3 separate regions of the Homo sapiens genome follow, and all the other regions are linked to region 1. The links come from fine-mapping of genetic effects on gene expression. A gene starts in region 1. Each other region holds a variant in brackets. All regions are shown on one strand. Distances are between the middles of the regions.

Region 1 (6,579 bases):
GAGATGCGGAAACTGGAGATGGAGAGGGCTGTTTCTTGTTCTCAGACTACTTTTAGACTATATACCCTTTCTTGAAACTCATTCACTTGTCTTAATTCTCCTCCTACTTCCTTGACCTCTATTTTGCTATATAGTCTTCATATTCTCTGCTGTGGTCCCAACATACTGGTAACTTTCAAATCCATATTTCCCTCAAGTTTCTCTCTTCTTAGCTCTAGTTTCCTATATTCAATTATCTTAATATAAATATATGGATATCCCACAGGCTTTTCACACTCAGCATGTCCATAACAGAGCTCATCATCTTCCCTCTAAAATTTGCTTTGCCTACAAAATTCCCAGAATCAGAAAATACTACTACCATCTATCCAGTCACCAAAACCAGAGACCTGGTGTTGAATATGGGGGGTCTCTGGGTTAAATTTGTCTCCCAGATCTAATTCTCACAACTATATCTACATTCAAGTTTATCTACCTAGATCACTCTCCTGCTCTAGCCAAGCAAAATTATTAGCAGTTTTACATGATTCTTCTGTGCCTTTGCACGTGTTTTTCTCAAGAATGCGCTCCAGCTGTTTCCCTTTGGCTGGCATTCTTCTTCCTACTTATTCTTGAAGACCAGTTCAAGGTGCACTTACTCTGTGAAATGTCTTTTCCCACTTTTGTCCCCATACTTTAATTATACCTACCTCAAAAATTATAAATACCTCAAATACAGTTATTTCTTAAATGTGTATTTGTTGATTTTTAAGTCTGTCTTCTCTACTGAACCTTAAGTTCATTGAGAGCACAGATTATTATCCCCAGCTGCTAACATAATTTGAACCTTTGTTCGCCTATTTGGGCCTTGGTTCTATCTGTAAAACAGGAACAAAAAAAAAATCTACTCTGCAAAATTATTGTGAGGATCAAAGATACCGTCTGCCTAGTAAGAAGCCAGAACAAAGTAGGTGCATATAAATTAGTGAATGTTATCATTACTGATAAATAAGTGGGTGACCAAGCATCTGATGAAGAGAGGGATTAGACTGACAATGTGAACATTCATGTTGCTTTAAAGGAATTGCAAGTAGCTCAGTTTTGTTAGAAAGCAGGGTAAATATTAAATGATGAGGGATAAATCTGTAAAGATTAGAAACCGATCCCAATTGCTTTGGCTATCCTTCTAGAGAGTTTGATCTTTTACCTGCAGATACAGGTCTACTGATTTAAGTGGCAAGGGACATGATAAGATCATTTTCCACATAACTCTGGTGGTACAGTAAGTAAGCTACAAGGATGGAAGAACACTTAAGAGTTTGAGGGCTAGGTGCAGTGGCTCACACCTGTAATCCCAGCATTTTGGGAGGCTGAGGTAGGAGGATCGCTTGAGCCTAGAAGTTCGAGACCAGGCTGGGCAACGTAGGAAAACACTGTCTCTACAAAAAAATTTTTTAAATTAGCCATCTGTAGGGGCACATGCCTTGGTCCCAGCTACTCGGGAGGCTGAGGTGGGAGGATCGCTTGAGCCCAGGAATTTGAGGCTGCAGTGAGTCATGACCATGCCACTGCACTCCAGCCTGGGCAACAGAGCAAGACTCTGTCTCAAAAAAAAAAAAAAAGTGCAGAGAGGAATTTAATTAATCATATAGTCAGCCTGAGGTATCCATTAGTCCATCAATAAAAACTTCAGAAGACAGTCTGAAGTAAGTCTGGAGTGTAGATGAGATCTGAGCTGTGGAGATAGTCACATCTAGGTAGAAGTGGCCTAGGAAAAAAAGCTTTAATGACATGCCCATAATTTGGGAACAAAGGTGGGCACAGCAATTCTCTGGGAGGTAGCAGAAAAACAGGGGCAAGTGGAATCAAGGAAGCCAAATTAAAAGAGTTTAAGAGAAGACCAGTCAAGAACATTAAACATAGGCCAGGCAGCAGTGGCTCATGCCTGTAATCCCAATGCTTGGGCAGACCGAGGCAGGAGCACTTGAGACCAGGAGTTTGAGACCAGCATGGGCAGCATAGCGAGACTCTGTTTCTAAAAATAAAGAAATTAAGAACATTAAATACAGCAGAAAGGTCACATGAGATGAACTGAAAAATGACCATTGGATTTGGTATTTGTTACTTTACCATTGTGTTGCAATCGTGTGTGAAAAATGGTGATGCTTTGTCATGAATAGAGACTAACAAAATAATAAATGATTTGAAGGACATGCATCTTTTTTGTTTGTTTGTTTTGAGTCAGGGTCTCACTGTGTCACCCAGGCTGAAATGCAGTGGCGCAATCTCAGCTCACGGCAGCCTCGACCTCCCGGACTCGCCATCCTCCCACCTCAACCTCCTGAGTAGCTGGGACCACAGTCACGTGCCACCACACCCAGATAATTTTTGTACTTTTAGTAGAGATAGGGGATGGGGGTGGGAGGTTCACCATGTTGGCCAGGCTGGTGTGGAACTCCCGGCCTCAAGTGATCCGCCCACCCTGGTTTCCCAAAGTGCTGGGATTACAGGCGTCAGCCACCGCCCAGCCCACTCTTTTAATACTAAACATATTATTTTCCCTGAATTAGATGAAATGTTCAATTTAATCTATTTTATCCCACCTTAGCAGGATTTGGAGAATTAAATTCAGCAGCCAAAGATCAGCTCACAACTTCTATCAGCAAACTCACGCACAAACTGTCATTTGTCAGACACTGTGAGGGACGTTATATGGGATACTTCAGCCTTTCTCAGAACTGAGCCATCCACAGTCAAGGTCTTGCAATAGAACCAATTTGAAAAGTCAAGGCTTCTAATCACCCAGACTCACCAAATTCCCAGGGCACTCAGATCTCACGCCCCAACCAAATCACAACTTCACTGTGGTAACCACCACCCACGTGCCCCCGAGCCTCCATGAACTGCCGGCCTCTAGCCTCAAGGAGACTCCTCCACCCAATCACTCCTTGCCTTGAGCTGGCCGGGAGTTTGGCGCGGGGCAGGGAAGGCTGCTGCTGCTGCTGCTCCGGTCGCCCGCAGCTCCTGACGTGCCAGGACAGGTGGATGCAGAGACCACCTGGACCGAAGGGCGGCTCTGTGGAGTCTCCTGGAGTCCGAAATTGTAGCGGGGACCCTGAGGTGAGCGGGTTTCTCCCGACGACGGGGAAACCGCCGGGGCAGAAGGCGAGGTTGATGAGATCTCAGGCCTCAGCATCCTCCCAAACCTTCCCTGACCCGAGAAGTATGAGGTTTCTGAGCGACCCCTCCAGTAGCCCAACTACAGAAGCTGCGCCGCTGAAACGGGCGGGAGAACTGCGCGCCGACGCACTAAGCTGCACTGCGCAGGCGCAGGCAGGCTCAGCTTTCCACATGGATTCACGTACTTCAGGTCTATGACCCTGCTTCCAGCCATTCCCAAACCCATCACTTTCCACATGAACCTCACTGGAACATCCTCAGCCTGCAGGTATCAGACTGACCAGAACTCTGCAAGGCCCATCAATGACCACCCGATTTGTTAGCCCCATTATTCTCACAGCACCCAATCTCCCTTATTGCAAATGTTACATGCATTTCCCACACGTCCAAGCACACTAGCTTATCTTTAAATGTAGAAACCACCCAACACAGTACACCCAGTGCCTTTGACACAATGAGAACGTGTAATGCTCACACAGCATAACCCACCTAAGGTTGATCTTGTGACCAAATATAGGAAAGATAGTTATATTATCAAAAGATAGTATGCACATGGCTGTGTGCATAGTAGAGTAGGAAACAGGGAAAGACTGACTGGGTAAGATCTCTCAGTTAACAATTCCCCATCTACCAATTTCTAGTACTGTGGTTTCTAACATATAAATCAGTTAATGGCACACTAGAAGTTCAAACTCCAGCTTTGCAGTGGTGACCTTTAGAAAATTCCTTAAATAAGGCCAATAGTACCAACTTACCAGAGATCCATGGATTAAACATGACGAAATTATCTGGATACTGCCATACAGAAGCTATTAGAAGACATTAATTTACACCACTACTGAAATCCTGCCACTGTTGAGTATCTCAATAAACCAGTTATGCACAGCGGTTTACCCACATGCAGTGACAACAGTCCTTAAGAACATCTCTGTTCTTGGAATGATTATTGCACAGGGCATTCCAAACATACTTGAGAAAAATCTCAATTTCCATCAAAAAACCTTATTTTCAGATCGGGCACGATGGCTCCTCCCTGTAATCCCAGTACTTTGGGAGACTGAGGCCAGAGGATTACTTCACCTCCGGAGACCAGCCTGGGGAAGACAGTGCCTGTCCCCAAAATTAAGAAATCAGCTGGGCATAGTGGGCATGGTGGCAGGTACCTGTAGACCCTGGTACTCAGGAGGCTGAGGTGGAAGGACTGCTTGAGCCCAGGAGTTTAAGGTTACAGTGAGCTGTGATTGCACTACTATGCCCCAGCCTGGGGAAGAAAGGAAGACCCTGTCTCTAAAAAATAAAATTTAAAAATAGAGAATACCTCACTTTCACCAAAACTGTAAACCCCTAGAGTGATTGTACTCATTTTAGGCCAGGCGTGGTGGCTCACGCCTGTAATCCCAGCACTTTGGGAGGCCGAGGTGGGTGGATCACAAGGTCAGGCTGGTCTCCAGCTCCTCAGCATGGTGAAACCCTGTCTGTACTAAAGTAACATAAAAATTAGCCGGGCATGGTGGTGTGCGGCTGTAGTCCCAGCTACTCGAGAGGCTGCGGCTGAATTGCTTAAACCCGGCAGACGGAGGTTGCAGTTAAGCTGAGATCGTGCTGCTGCGCTCCAGCCTGGGCAACAGAGATTCTGTCACAAAAAAATAAAAAAGAGTGATTGTACCCATTTTAGCTTTTTAAGAAAAAGACAGGTGCAAAAAAATACTGTGGTGACCATCAACTTACCCGTTAGTGTTTCCTTATTTGAAGACAACTCCTTCTTTGGGTAATTCTGATATATAAAATGCTAAAAAAAAAAAAAAAAAAAAAAAAAAAAAGGACAGTCCGAATCACAACCCCATTTTAAGATGGTAGATTGCCATTTAACCTAAGTCTGTGACCAATTCAGAATAACCATATTCAAACCTATCAATCATTTCCAAATTTCAACAGCCATTTATTTTGTGCATCATTTAATTCATGTATGGGTTCTATCCACTTTCATCAGTTAACATTCTTGTTGACAAACCAATTTACATCAACTTGCTATAGAACAGATGAAAGGTATACATGGGGGAAAAATCAAGTAGAAACCTAGAGTTATTTTATGTTAGCTCAGTTATTGAACATAACAGACACAGAAGTATACACAAAGAACTGTAGTCAGAATAACAGGACTTCAGAATAAAAAGCAGAAAATAAAATACCGGTCTTTATTTTACAATATGTATAATTATATAATTTATTAAAATTAATTTAACACAATATACAAAATATTAACAGTAGTCACTTTTAGATTCGATAAGCACTTCAAATACAGAAATGTTAAAATGGCAAAACTATACTATGCAACTTTCAATTCAATGAATCTAGCTCACTAGCTCAGGCTGAACATTCACTCTCTGAAGCACTTCTTCAGGCATGCAAAAGACAGGATTAACAGGTTTAATCTGTTCTTCTCCCAAAAGTGACAATCCAGCAATTCCAAATAAGGTATGAAAAGGATCCACCTATTTAAAAAAGAATTTATATACAGATCACAAAATGAAAACTTCTTTAACTTCAAATTATGAATACCTGACCTTTACCATATACTAATTTTGTTAGCAACAAGCGACAAGAAATTTCTGTAAGATTGTTCTATATCCTTCATACACTCTACAATAAATAGAAAAAAAAACTGCTTTCAAAGCAACACTCGGAATGCCACCCTGGAAATCCATGGAACCATGAAGTAATGCAAACGCTGAAATAATTTATAGAAATATGTCAGAAATATTACTTGCCATATCTCCTGGCCTGTCTGCAAATCCCCCCGTTTCTTCATCTTGACATGCTAAAATGAAATTACGCAGTTTCTCTCTATCAATCCAATGAAGTCTTCCAATTATCTTTAGGGAAGCCAGGACCCACCATGAGTAGCATACATCTGGTAACTAGGAGGGAAAAAAGTTGCCACAATTTCATTCTCTTTTATTTCCCTAATTTTGAGAACAATTTAAAAGTGGGTTAAGTCTCACTCTTAGGTAATCTGATGTTCAAAGTGTCAAACCATGTGGAAGGACGAAATCCAGGGATATACTGATATGCAGGGTATGAAATACTTGCTTAGAATGAAAGATAATCAATTAATGGGTAAGAAGAGACCAAACTTCAATTCATAGGTAACCATGCTAAATATCTCAGTACTCACTGATAAGCATGCATCTGCTTTGTTTCTATCTGCAATGAATGCCTAACTCAGCCCCTTAACCAAGAAGCTAGCAGTATAATCATGAAATCCATGGGTATAGTTCTGTTTTTCTACAAGCACTGTCCAGGGGGGTACACACCTGCTTAAAATCAACTAAACCCTTGCTCTTCAAAATATGGTGACAGAAGTCTATAAAGAAAACCCCACTCAAGGCTGATCTCATTTTAATGAGATCCCTGAGTAAC
Region 2 (6,579 bases), 630 kb after region 1:
CGGTTACATAGGTAGTAAGAGGCTGGACTGGAATTGGAACCAGGCTCTAACTACTTGAAAGCAGACCCTGTGAGCTTTCCACAAACTACAGTGAGCTGTGGTCATAGCTTCTGAGAAAGGGATTTCAGAATTCCTGCACCTGAGGCCAGAACAGGAAAAGCTCCCAGTGTGTGAAACATATGACTGAGTTATGTGTTTCCTGTGCGTCCTCTCTCTTTAAAAAAAAAGAGGGGTTGACAGCAGATTATCCAGGACAAATTGAAAACAATGACCAGGCCAGGTGCAGTGGCTCACGCCTGTAATCCCAGCACTTTGGGAGGCTGAGGCAGGTGGATCATCTACGATCAGGAGCTCAAGACCAGCCTGGCAAACATGGTGAAACCCCATCTCTACTAAAAAACAATGTAAAAATTAGCCAAGTGTGGAGGTGGGTGCCTGTAATTCCAGCTACTTGGGAGGCTGAGGCAGGAGAGTAGTTTGAACCCAGGAGGCAGAGGTTGCAGTGAGCCGAGACCACACCATTGCACTCCAGCCTGGGCAACAAGAGTGAAACTCTGTCTAAAACAAACAAACAAACAGAAAACTATGACTAGATACCTATCCGACCATTCTGGCCCACTTTGAAGGCTAATGAAGCAAGGTGTGCTGATGGCCTAGACAGCTACTGCGGGCAGAGGAAAAAGAAAACTTTACATTTTAACCTATATTAGACAGAAAATGGGAGGAGCCATTCGAGAGAAATAAAAAGACTCTGCAGCCACATTTACACAGTAAAAGCCAAATGGAAGATTGAGCAATTACCCAGTAACTGCAGGCTGGGGAGTCAGCCAATTTGGGTAACTCAGATAAAAACATGTGTTTGGCTGCTTCTCTTGCCTGAATTACTCGATAATGACCCAACCTGTCTGTTTTGCTTAGTCGAAGAGAACAAGAAACAGTTCCATCTGAGGCAGAGAACTTCCATGGGCCATCGTGTAGCCCAGGCTGAGGAGTTGCTGGGGAAAGGCTGTCCCTGGGATCCTGGCATGGAGTAAATTAACCATGGCAAGAGACTGCTCTGTCAATGCCCTGTGCTAGCTCCTAGAAACCCTAACATGAATAGTCTAGGGTCTCTAGTCTAATCTTGAGACAAAACTGAGGAAGGAAAATTATAATAAAACTTATTAAAGTGTAGAGATATCCTTTGAGGAAATGATGGGAACACAAAGAACTCACCCACATTGGGGTGGGGTGTGGGGAACAATCAGGGCAGGCTTCCTGGAGGGGATGATATTTGAGCTTGGTCCTGGATGATGAGGAATTGTTAGTCAGGAAAAGAGAAATGGAGAAAGGAGAGGGAAAGCTAGTGAAAGATGGTGGCATTTTTTTTCCTCTGGTGTTAGGAGTTAGTTTACCAAGGAATAAATACAGATAACTTTCAGGGTTTATTGTGCACCAGATACTTTTCTAAGTACTTTATATGTACTATCTTATCACAGGGTCACAATAACCATTTGGGAAAAGTGCTATTATTAGTCCATTTTGCATATGAGAAAACTCTGGCACAGCGCAGTTTAATAACTTGCCCACAGTCACCATGGTGGGATGTGGCAAAACGAGGACTCCAGACAGCATGACGTGAAAGTTTTTGTGATACTTCTCCATGTTGTCTGTAATGTAGCTTCAGCCCTACTGCCATGCCATTCCTGCAGATGTCCATGACAGAGCAGAATAAACTAATGCTTCACAAAGGCCAGAAGTCCACTCTCAGATTAGAACACAAGCAGGCAAGTGACACACAGAGGCTGCAACTCTGCCTTTGCCCTGCCTGCTCCTGTGCCAGCTCAGCTCCACTTCGACACCTTATCCCCTGCCCTACATGAGCACTGCATGCTCCTCTGAGCCCATGAATTTCCTGTAGACTGTCTCATCGCCCTCATTCTATCCTAACAGGAGAGGAAGCCCATTATAGGATTGGATCCAAGTCTTTGTTAGAAGTTTCCCGATCCTTCTCCCACCTTGGTTCCATTGATGACCCTTTGCAAGTGCTAGGCTCTACTGTGGAGCCTGTCAAGCTAGTTTTGTTCACCAAGACTTCTGAGACATGTTTTTACCATTGTCATAAATGCACCATGCTGTCTTCTGAAAGACAAATGATGAACTAGGAAAATTGCATATGGTCTCGCTTGGAGGAGTTTCAACCAAAGATGAAATTTGTGGTTCAGAACCATGCTGGCAAAATAACAGACTTATTCCAATACATCTGAAAGAAATGAGCTAATAACTAGTAGTGGTTCTCTAGAGACATCACCCTGGTTCCGGGAAGTAAATATTTTGAAATTGAATTTGTAACAATGGTTTCCATTTTCAAATATGGCATCATAATTCCTTTGGGTTTAAGAAAATTATTTTGGAAAACATTCAAATCATTTCTGCAAACTAAATTTTACAGACTCTCTACATCCAAATCACAGAAGGTCACACCTCTACTTGACTGAATAATTCTTTAAGATCAAGAAGGGAGTTAATGTAGACAGGAAGTAGATGTTTTCCATTTGTAGGGAGGTTGGAGTAAAAACACTTTGCTGGAGAATGTGTAACTCATTAGCAGCATAGATGCTCCACCTCTGACTTTATTTAAAGAAATGCACAAAGTGCTTTGTTCCTGGGGTTGCCTGGGATAGGGCAGTGCTTGCCAAACTTCTGGTGCTCCATCACCTCCAACTGCCCGGCCTCAGAGTGCCTGATTTCCTGCCACTAACCCCGCCCTTCAAAATTAATGGATCATGTTTTTACCATGTCTTTTTTCCATTCATCTCACTTTTGCTTCATAAAAACTTTCCTTTTACTGTTGAGGAAATCAGCATGCAGGGAGGCTTAAGTGTCCTTGGGATACAGTTAATTGGTGTCAGAGAAAGTGTCAAAATCCAGCTGTCTCCCATTCCATGCTAAATGGTGTAAAAAGAATATAAATTGCCACAGGTATATAAGATATTTGCTAAAGGAAGGGTAGAATATTTTCCTTAAGGATTTGAAAAGATCTGTTTTGGAATTTGAAGTTATCCTAGGACGCTCAAACATAGAGTCTTATTCTGATTGTTTTTCTACCACCCTCATTCAATCCCTGAGTGCTTACTTGGTGGCAGGAACTGGGGAATGTAATGGAGAGCAAGACAGATGTTGTTTCTACCTCCCCAGGACCCCTTCTATTCTTTATTTCTTAACATCTTTTTTTCCTCCATTGATACCCCCATACAAGTGCCCATACACAGTCCATCCCTAAACTCCACTCTCAGCCCCCTAGCAAGTTCAG[A/G]TCTTTGTGGTAAGTACTGTACTTGATGACAATTTAGAAAAGGAGAAGCAGTTCCTTGCAGTGGTTTTCACATCCTCTAAGCCTATGGCAGTCTATTTCTTATGAAACTCAAGGAACTGGGGGAAATTTGTTAATTTATTCTCCTAAGATCTCTATACATTTATAAAAATAATCTGGTGCCCTGGAGAATTCTTGCATATTAAAACCAAAGGCCTAATTATGTTAATTGAAGCTTCCTAAATTTCAATTCCCTCATCTGTTGAATGAGAGCATGATGATATACAGAAACGCATTTAAAAAGTATGAAGGACCATGTAATAAAGTTATCACCATAATCAGCAACAAAGAAAACAGAATATGATAGAGTGCCAGGTACTAAAGTAAAACATTTGATATCAAGTGAATGAAACCTCAGCTGAAAAAATCCTAATGAATGCTCACTTTAGTAATATATGCAGAATAACTAAAGGCAAAAAAAAGTCACAAAAGTGGCAGCTTGTGCTTAAATTTAGCCCCTTTATAAGATACTAGTTTTCGGCTGGACGTAGTGGCTCATGCCTATAATCTCAGCACTTTGGGAAGACAGGTGGGAGGACTGCTTGAACCCAGGAATTCGAGACCAGCCTGTGCGTCATATTATATAGCAAGACCTAGTCTCTACAAAAAAAAATTTGTGTGGTGTGTGGTGGCATGCATCTGTAGTTCTGGCTACTTGGGAAGATCACTTGTGCCCAGTAGTTGGAACACAGCGAGGCTCTGCCTGGAAAAAAAAAAAAAAAAAAGGATACTGGTTCTCCGAAATGCAAACTACAATTTTATATCAAGTAATAAATAAAGTTTTTTAAAATTGTATTTTTGAGTATAAGATTAAAAAATATTTATCAACTCCAATTTAGGCAGGACAGACAAGGGTTCCAAAAACACTTCAAACACTGCTGGTGGAGATGTAATTTAGTGCAACATTTGGTGGGAAATCAATGCATTTCAAGAGCCTTTTAAACCTATGCATGCACATCCATTCCACTTCCAAGAATTCACACTGGGGAAATAAGAATATACATTAAAAGGTAGCAGGTAGCCACAAAGATGCCTTCACAGTGTCATTTAAAATGGTAATAGTATAGCATAGTGGTTAAGATTATGGCATCTGGAATCACTGAGCTGCTAAATCCAAATACTGGCTTTGTTACTTGCCACCAAGATAGTGGACATATCAATTTTTTAATTTCTATGTTTGTAAAATAAGGGTGATAATAGAATCCATTTCATGAAGTTGCTGTGAATACATATCAAAATACCCCTGAGGCACTCAAACAGGACATCCTGAAAGTGCTCACAATGTTAGGCTCTATTCATAATAATAAAAAGTTAGATACAACCTATTTATCTAATAAAATTGTTTTATTCAAGCAGTGTAATACTATATGTTTTAGTCCATTCAGGCTGCTATAACAAAATATCAGACAGGGTAATTTATGAACAACAGAAATGTATTGGTCACAGTTCTGGAGGTAGTGAACAAGATCAAGGCACCAGCAGATTCTGTCTGGTGAGGACCCAGTCCTCATAGATGGCACCTGTGTGTCTTCACATGGCTGAAGGCCAAAGGGGCAAACAAGCCCCTTAGGTCTCTTTTATAAGGGCACTAATCCCATTTGCAAGGGTTCTTCCCTCATGACCTGGTTATCTTTCAAAAGCCCTACCTCTTAATACCACCACATTGCAGACTATGTTTTAATACAAGAAATTTGAGGGGACATAGTACTATATATCAATTAAAATGATATTGTAGGTAATATTTGACTTGTAAAGATATTTACTAAAGGGAAAATGTAGGCTACAAAATAGTACTTACTATCTGATTGAATCCAAGTAGATGTTTATGAGATGTCATCCAGTGTACCTGAACTTGTTTTGGACTCAGATCCATCTAAATATTTAGTTGTGTTTCAAAAGAGTAAAAATCATATAGTGCTAATATCAGTTTCTTTATCTCCTCCGGTAGGAGCCATTGAGAATTTTTCCTACACTAATATACTTTTGGTACTTAGTGTATTGCAACCTAAATTACTTCTGTTCTAAATAATAAAATAGAAACATTACTTTTGCTAACTGGTAAAGTCATCCATGCCATAACAAAAGTCCCAATATGCCACCTAGTTTAATCATGCTAGTAGAGTAATTATACACATAATATACCACATCAAGAAATACTACAGCTATCAGCTTTCAGATGACTGTAACAAATTTTAAAAGCATGAGCTGTGATTCTATCTAACAATGTTTATTATGGGATATTCAAAACAGGTGTACTTATAATTTACAACGAGTGATGTGGAATTTTAAAAATGACATTTGTCAAATGTAAAACTACTACTAAATACTACCTTGTCCAAATAAAAAGAATCACTTAAAGAGTATTGACTTAGTGTGACTTCCATTTCAATGTTTGAATGGGATTCTTGATTTGAATTGCAAAAAAAAAAAAAAGGTATCCTACCCTCTCACAGCTCATGAATGTCTTCACACCTAAGAGATAACTACTTGTTACCCACATCTTTGCTACTCCAACAATATAGAGTTTTCTTTCTCTAATCTTCACAAAAGCTGACCATACTCAATTTCAAGTAAGTATTGTGCTCACATACTTAAACACTGAATATTACTAGCATGGAAATACTTCAATTCTTTCCTAATATTAGGTTTTAAAAATAAGATCTCTGGCTAGAGATAGCAAAGTCAGAAGCTTCTATCACATATCATATTTTTAGTACTTTCACATCTATCTCTTTTCATGATTAACAGTTTTATATTCAGGATATATAAATCTCATCTATTTTGATAGCTTTGAGCCTCTTTGTTAGGAAGTTTTACTTCAACTTTGGGCATTCATCTTTGGAACTAAAAAGGGTGGTGATATATTTTTGTAAAAACTCTCTGTACAGAGTCAGAGGATGATGAGCACAGGAAAAAGACAGCAAATAAAAATGAATACTCACAATCAGCCACCTCCCAAGCTAAGGGATGCCAATTATAGTCAGCTGGGAAATGCTGTAAACTGCTAACAGTGCAGAGCTTGGCTATACTACAAAAGCTTTCCTAGACATCAGGTAAAGGTAAAGCTGACCTCATCACTTCATGCCTGGGACAGGTAGACAAAAACCCACAGAGATTAGCATCAGGCTCAAGATTAGATGGGTTGACTTCTGGCTACAAAGGGATTTAAAATAGAGTAGCCGGTTTAAAAAAAAAAAAATCCCTCCCCTTTCTCCCATAATGAAGCAGGT
Region 3 (6,579 bases), 71 kb before region 1:
TACCATTTATTAATCACCTTGATTTCCTTCTTTGGGTCATTTTCCATATTTCCATTGGCATTTCAATATTTTCCTATGAAATTACATGAGTTTTATGATGACAGAAATTAGTATTTTGTCTGTCTGATACAGTTAGGGTTTGTCTCCCCACCCAAATCTCATCATAAATTATAATCCCTAGAATTCCCATAATCCTCACTTTTCCAGGGAGAGACCAGATGGAGGTAATTGAATAATGTGGGCAGTTTCCCTCATGCTGTTCTCATGATGGTGAGTGAGTTCTCATCAGATCTGATCGTTTTATAAGTGTGTGATAGTTCCTCCTGCATTCCTTCTCTTTCCTGCTGCCTTGTAACAAAGGTGCCTTGTTTCCCCTTCTCCTTCTGCCATGATTGTACATTTCCTGAGGCCTACCCAGCCATACTGAACTGTGAGTCAATTAAATCTGTTTCCTTTATGAATTTCCCAGTCTTTGGTAGTTCTTTATAGCAGTATGAAAACAGACTAATAAACTGTCATTTGTTATAAATTTTTCCTACCTTTGCCTTTTACTTTGCTTTTGACATACCAAAGTTTAAAATTTGTGTTTCATGAAATCTCTCAATATTTTTCTGGTGATTTATTCCATTTATTTCATTACAAGAAAGGTGAAAACATTTTTGAAGTCTTTTGCCACATTACTTTAACTATACATATTTGTATTAGTCCTTTCTCATGCTGCTAAGAAAGACATACCCAAGACTGGGTAATTTATAAAGGAAAAAGGTTTAATTGACTCACAATTCCACATGGCTGGGGAGGCCTCACAATCATGGCAGAAGGTGAATAAGGAGCAAAGTCATGTTTTACATGGCAGCAGGCAAGAAGAACATGTGCAGGGGAACTCCCCTTTAAACAACCATCAGATCTCGTGAGACTTATTCACTACCAGGAGAACATGGGGGAAACTGCCCTATGATTCAATTACCTCCACCTGGCCCTGCCTTTGACATGTGGGGATTATTACAACTCAAGGTGAGTTTTGGGTAGGGAAACAGCCAAACCATATAATTCTGCCCCTAGCCCCTGCCAAATCTCATGTCTTCACATTTCAAAACCAATCATTCCTTCCAAAGAGTCTCCCAAAGTCTTAACTCATTTCAGCATTAACTCAAAAGTCCACAGTCCAAATCTCATCTGAGACAAGGCAAGTCCCTTCTGCCTATGAGCCTATAAAACTGGAAAGCAAGTTAGTTACTTCCTAGATACAATTGGGGTACAGGCATTGGGTAAATACACCCATTCCAAATGGGAGAAAATGGCCAAAATGGAGGGGCTACAGGCCCCACGCAAGTCCAAAATCCAGTGGGACAGTCAAACCTAAAAGCTCCAAAATGATCTCCTTCGACTCCATGTCTCACATACAGGTCACACTGATGCAAGAAGTGAACTCCCATAGCCTTGAGCAGCTCCACCCTTGTGCCTTTGCAGGGTACAGCCCCCTGAACCCTGCAGCTGCTTTTAAGGCTGGTGTTGAGTGTCTGTGGCTTTTCCAGGTGCATGGTGCAATCTGTCGGTGGATCTACCATTCTGGAGTCTGGAGGACAGTGGCCCTCTTCTCACAGATCCACTAGGCAATGCCCAAGTGGGGACTCTGTGTGGGGGCTTTTGCCCATTTTCCTTCTGCACTGTCCTAACAGAGGCTCTCCATGAGGGTCCCGTCCCTGAAGAAGACTTCTGCCTGGACATCCAGGCATTTCCGTACATCCTCTGAAATCTAGGTGGAGGCTCCCAAACTATTCTTGACTTCTGTGCACCTGCAGGCTCAACACCACATGGAGGCTGCCAAGGCTTGAGGCCTGCACCCTCTGAAGCCATGGCCCGAGCTGTGTGTTGGCCACTTTTAGCCATAGCTGGAGCAACTGCGACGCAGAGCACCAAGTCCCTAGGCTGCACAGAGCAAGCGGGGCCAGAAAACCATTTTTTCCTCCTAGATCTCTGGGCCTGTAATGGAAGGGGCTGCCATAAAGGTCTCTGACATGACCTGGAGACATTTTCCCCATTGTCTTGGTGATTATTAACTTTTGCCTCCTTGTTACTTATGCGAATTTCTTCAGCTGGTTTGAATTTCTCCCCAGAAAATGGGATTTTCTTTTCTACTGTATCCTCAGGCTGCAAATTTTCCAAACTTTTATACTCTGCTTCCTCTTGAATGCTTCACTGCTTAGGAATTTCTTCCCCCTGGATACCCTCTCTCTCAAGTTCAAAGTTCCACAGATCTCCAGGGCAGGGGAAAATGCTGCCAGTCTCTTTGCATAGCAAGAGTGACCTTTATTCCAGTTCCCAAAAATCCCTCATCTCCATCTGAGACCACCTCAGCCTGGACCTTACTATCCCTATAACTATCAGCATTTTGGTCAAAGCCATTCAGCAAGTCTCTAGGAAGTTTCAGACTTTCCTACAACTTCCTGTCTTCTGAGCCCTCCGAACTGTTCCAGCCTCTGCCTGTTACCCAGTTCCAAAGTTACTTCCATATTTTCAGGTACCTTTACAGCAGCACCCCACTCTACTGGTAAAATTTACTGTATCAGTCTGTTCTCAGCTGCTAATAAAGACATACCCAAGACTGGGAAATTTATAAAGGAAAAAGGTTTAATTGACTCACAGTTCCACATGGCTGGGGAGGCCTCACAATCATGGCAGAAGGTAAATCAGGAGCAAAGTTACATCTTACATGCCGGTAGGCAAGAAGAACATGTGCAGGGGAACTCTGCTTTATAAAACCATCAGACCTTGTGAGACTTATTCACTACCAAAAGAACAGTATGGGAGAAACCACCCCCATGATTCAATTATCTCCACCAGTCCCCGCCCTTGAAATGTGGGGATTCTTACAATTTAAGGTGAGATTTGGGTGGAGACACAGCCAAACCATGTTAATATTTATTAGAATAATCTCTATAACAAAGTTATTCCATATTTTTCATTATTTCTTTTTCAAAAGCAGTTCCCTTTATCACTTCAATAAAAACAAGTTTTACACAGTGTAGTATTTAAAAGTTAATGAGAAAATAATCATCTTGTAACCATCAGAGTAATAATTACTTCAGGTAAGAGCCATCAATTAATTCTACAATCAATGGGTGGAAGTTTGATGAGGATTGGGTTATTTACACATTCTCAAAATAACTCTCCATAGATTAATAACTTATTAATTACAAAAGAAAATCTGAATTTATGGTGAAGAAATTGATCAGTTAATATCACCAAGAATGAGGAAATGGCATTATGTGCCTCTTGATGTGATGCACTAAAAAGGATACATCATAGAGTATTAAGGCCAAATATGCACAGATGAATTTAATCAGGAGAAAGCAATCACATAAATTGAGGAAATTCTACTTAAAAAGTTGACCCTTATGCTTCAAAATGTCAGTATCATGAACAAAGGCTGAGAAACTTCTCCACTTCAAAGGAGTTTTAAAAAACATGACATTAAATATAAGATATGATCCTGGATTGGACCCTATATC[A/T]GGAAAAAAATGCTATAAAGAACATTATTAGAACAATTTTAAAAATTTGAGTATGGGATACATATTATAAAATAGTATTGCATCAGTATTAATTATTCTGAATTTGATAATAATATTATGATTATATAAGAGAACATCTTTTTGTTGGGAGACTTTAGTCTCCTAAGTACTTAGTACCTTAGTACTTAGGTGCTGCAATTTATTCTTAAATGGTTCAGTAAGCATAATAAGGCTAACAATGTGTATGTGTATGTAAAGTATGTACAAAGAAAAAAAATATGGGAAATTCGCCATGTTATTCTTGCAATTTTCCGAGTTTGAAATTTTTTTCCAACAAAAAGTTAAAAAATAATGCTGGACATGTTTTGTACGATACACACACATAAATTACCTTTAAAGGATCCACAAGTTCCAAGGTATGTTTTAAGTATATTAAATTTGTTATCTTTGATTCAGCAGCATTGACCTGTTAAGATAAAAACCCAAATTTGGATGGACACCATAAATATTTAATAGAACAATGGGTTTTCCTCTTGAACATTCTTACTCTTTCCATATCCCATATATTTTTATATATCAGCCTAGCCGCAATGCAAGCCTAAAGAATGATACAAAATTATTGACCCACCATAATTAACCTAGCACACCGGTTTCCCAAAAGTCTGGAAATGAGAAGAGTTCATCTCTTTGTATCCAATTTTCATTTCTATTTCAATCTCTTGGGTTCAATTTAAACTGAATAGCAAAAGGAGATGCAGTCCAATCCTGAGCAGCACCAAGAGACTAAGATTAACTGAAAAAGGCACAAAGAGTATTTGTAGATAGATGATATTTTAAAAGGCTGAATCCAAACCTCCCAGATAGTTATAGAACAACACTGATTTCCCTCATTGGTTCCTGTTTGTTCAAGTAAAACTTTTCATAATTCCACTAGGAATTATAGTTTGCCAAAATAAAGCAATATCAACATTCCAAATTTTATTAATAAATTTTATATAAATTAAATTGCACTCTAGAATTGGGCAGTGTTACCAAACCTGGAGGAATGAGGAATGATCCTGTGCCTGGACTAATTTACCAATACTGACAGATGAAGTAGAGTTTTAGGACTACAATTATGACATAATGTACTTGATATGAAGATGTTTCTTTTTTTTTTTTAATAGAGATGGGGTTTCACCATGTTGGCTAGGCTGGTCTCGAACTCCTGACCTCAGATGATCCAGCCATCTCGGCCTCCCAAAGTTCTGGGATTACAGGCATGAGCCACCATGCCTAGCCAGATGTTTCTTTTTGAGGTACCGTGGTCTATAGCCCCACTGCACAATACCTGGACTGTTCTGTGACCATATGCATCAATTTAGAAAAAATGCCATAATAAATGTTGTTAGCCCCAAATGGGTTATGTCATGTTCTCTTACAATGGATCTCTGAAACTAACTGGAAGATTAAAAATAAATAAAATTCACTAAACAGAAAACAACTATCATCACTATCACTAAAGAAGAATAATTCATGCTAGGTGCAATGGCTTATGTCGGTAATCCCAGCATTTTGGGAGTCTGAGGTAGGAGGATCACTTGAGCTCAAGAGTTTGAGACCAGCCTGGGCAACATGGCAAAACTCTGCCTCTACAAAAAAAAAGTTAAGAAATTAGCTGGGTGTGGTGGCACATGTCTGTGGTCCAGCTACATAGAGGCTGAGGTGGGAGGATCACTTGAGCCCAGGAGGTTGAGCCTGCAGTAAGCAGTGATCACACCAGCCTGGGTGACAAAGTGAAACCCTGTCTCAAAAAAGGGCAGGGGGATAATTCCAAAAATAGCTAACACACCACTGAAGAAGAAGAAGATGGAAAGACTAACTAATGAATGAATGTCAACTTCTAATAAAATTACAGTAATTAAGAAATGATGGTATTGACGTAAAAACAGAGTCCAATGGAACAGAATAAAGAGTCTAGAAATAGACCTAAACATATATATGGGCACTCGATTTATGACAAAGGTTGACTGCGGAACAGTGGGGAAAGGAGAGTCTTTTCCGTAAATAGTACCAGTAGAATTATGAATCCATATGGGAAGAAAAGAAACATGGCCCTTCCCTCAACCTACACACAAAAATTAATTCCAGATGGATTGTATATCTAAGTATAAAAGGTAAAACAATAAAATATCTGGAATTAATAAAGAAGAATATCTTCATGGCCTTGTGTGTTCTAATTAACTTTTATAGATTTTGTAATTGATGATTTGGCATCCATTAATCACACGGTGAAACTAATAGCTAAAGTTGTTTACATCTCCCTTGCAGTCTGGCTTTTGCAGGCATGTGAAAATCATATTACAAACTCTCCAATCACAAACTTCAACATCTGTGTTTTACTTCCTGCCCAACAGGTGACTTCCCTACCTAGCAACTTCCTGGCATTTTTGCCCATGTTTCTCCTTGCTCCTTCTGCCTCTCGACCAACCCTAGTACTTCCCCAGGTGGTCCTGCCTGACATGCCCTCTCCTCTTGGGAACTATACGTAATAAACAATAGCATTAGTGTCTCCATGTTATCATTCAATCATCTTCATAAATTAAAATTAAAATTCCATGGGTACAATCAAGATATTAGAGTAGGTAAAGACTTCTTATGCAGGACAGAGCAAACACTAACTATGAAGGGAAAAAAAACTGATAAACTAGATCCATTTAAATTATGAATTTCTATTTATCAAAAGATATTACTAACTCAAGATAGGTTCTCCAAAAGCCAACTCTGAGAAACTAGAATTTGAGAGCAAATAATTTATTTTAAAAAGTAATTCCAGCAAAAACAAGCAAGGGAGTGGGGAAGTAAGACAGAGAAGGAAAGGATACCTGTACAGGAGACATTAATGATCAAGTAACCAATTTGTCTCCATCTCTCAGATGGAGACATCTGAGAGATGGAATAGAGTAAGTTTCAGAAGCTATCTCCAGAGGTAAGGAAAATGGGGTATTTATTCATCAACTCCTATTCAGTGTTGGTTAAGAGCTGTTGCCAGGGCATCAATTCCCTAATACCCTCCAGCCTCTCTTAT

What was found. PIP is the estimated chance that this variant, and not a neighbour inherited with it, causes the effect.
Region 2: its variant is fine-mapped to the expression of MSH4 in lymphoblastoid cells (GTEx, PIP above 0.99).
Region 3: its variant is fine-mapped to the expression of MSH4 in whole blood (TOPMed, PIP above 0.99). The same link has a PIP of 0.9 or more in prefrontal cortex.

What each region holds. Positions count from the first base shown.
Region 1 is chr1:75,793,582-75,800,160 of GRCh38, reverse strand. It overlaps MSH4 (mutS homolog 4), which reads right to left and starts at 3,279. Exons shown (of 20, transcript NM_002440.4): 1 at 2,932-3,279. The coding sequence starts at 3,175. It overlaps RABGGTB (Rab geranylgeranyltransferase subunit beta), which reads right to left. Exons shown (of 9, transcript NM_004582.4): 8 at 5,928-6,077; 9 at 5,075-5,651. The coding sequence ends at 5,511.
Region 2 is chr1:75,162,222-75,168,800 of GRCh38, reverse strand. It overlaps a transcript of LHX8 not described here. Among named protein-coding and RNA genes, the nearest start is that of LHX8, 31 kb to the right of the region's middle. The variant A/G (reference allele first, on the strand shown) is at 3,293.
Region 3 is chr1:75,864,913-75,871,491 of GRCh38, reverse strand. It overlaps MSH4 (mutS homolog 4), which reads right to left. Exons shown (of 20, transcript NM_002440.4): 9 at 3,904-3,978. Among named protein-coding and RNA genes, the nearest start is that of ASB17, 64 kb to the left of the region's middle. The variant A/T (reference allele first, on the strand shown) is at 3,513.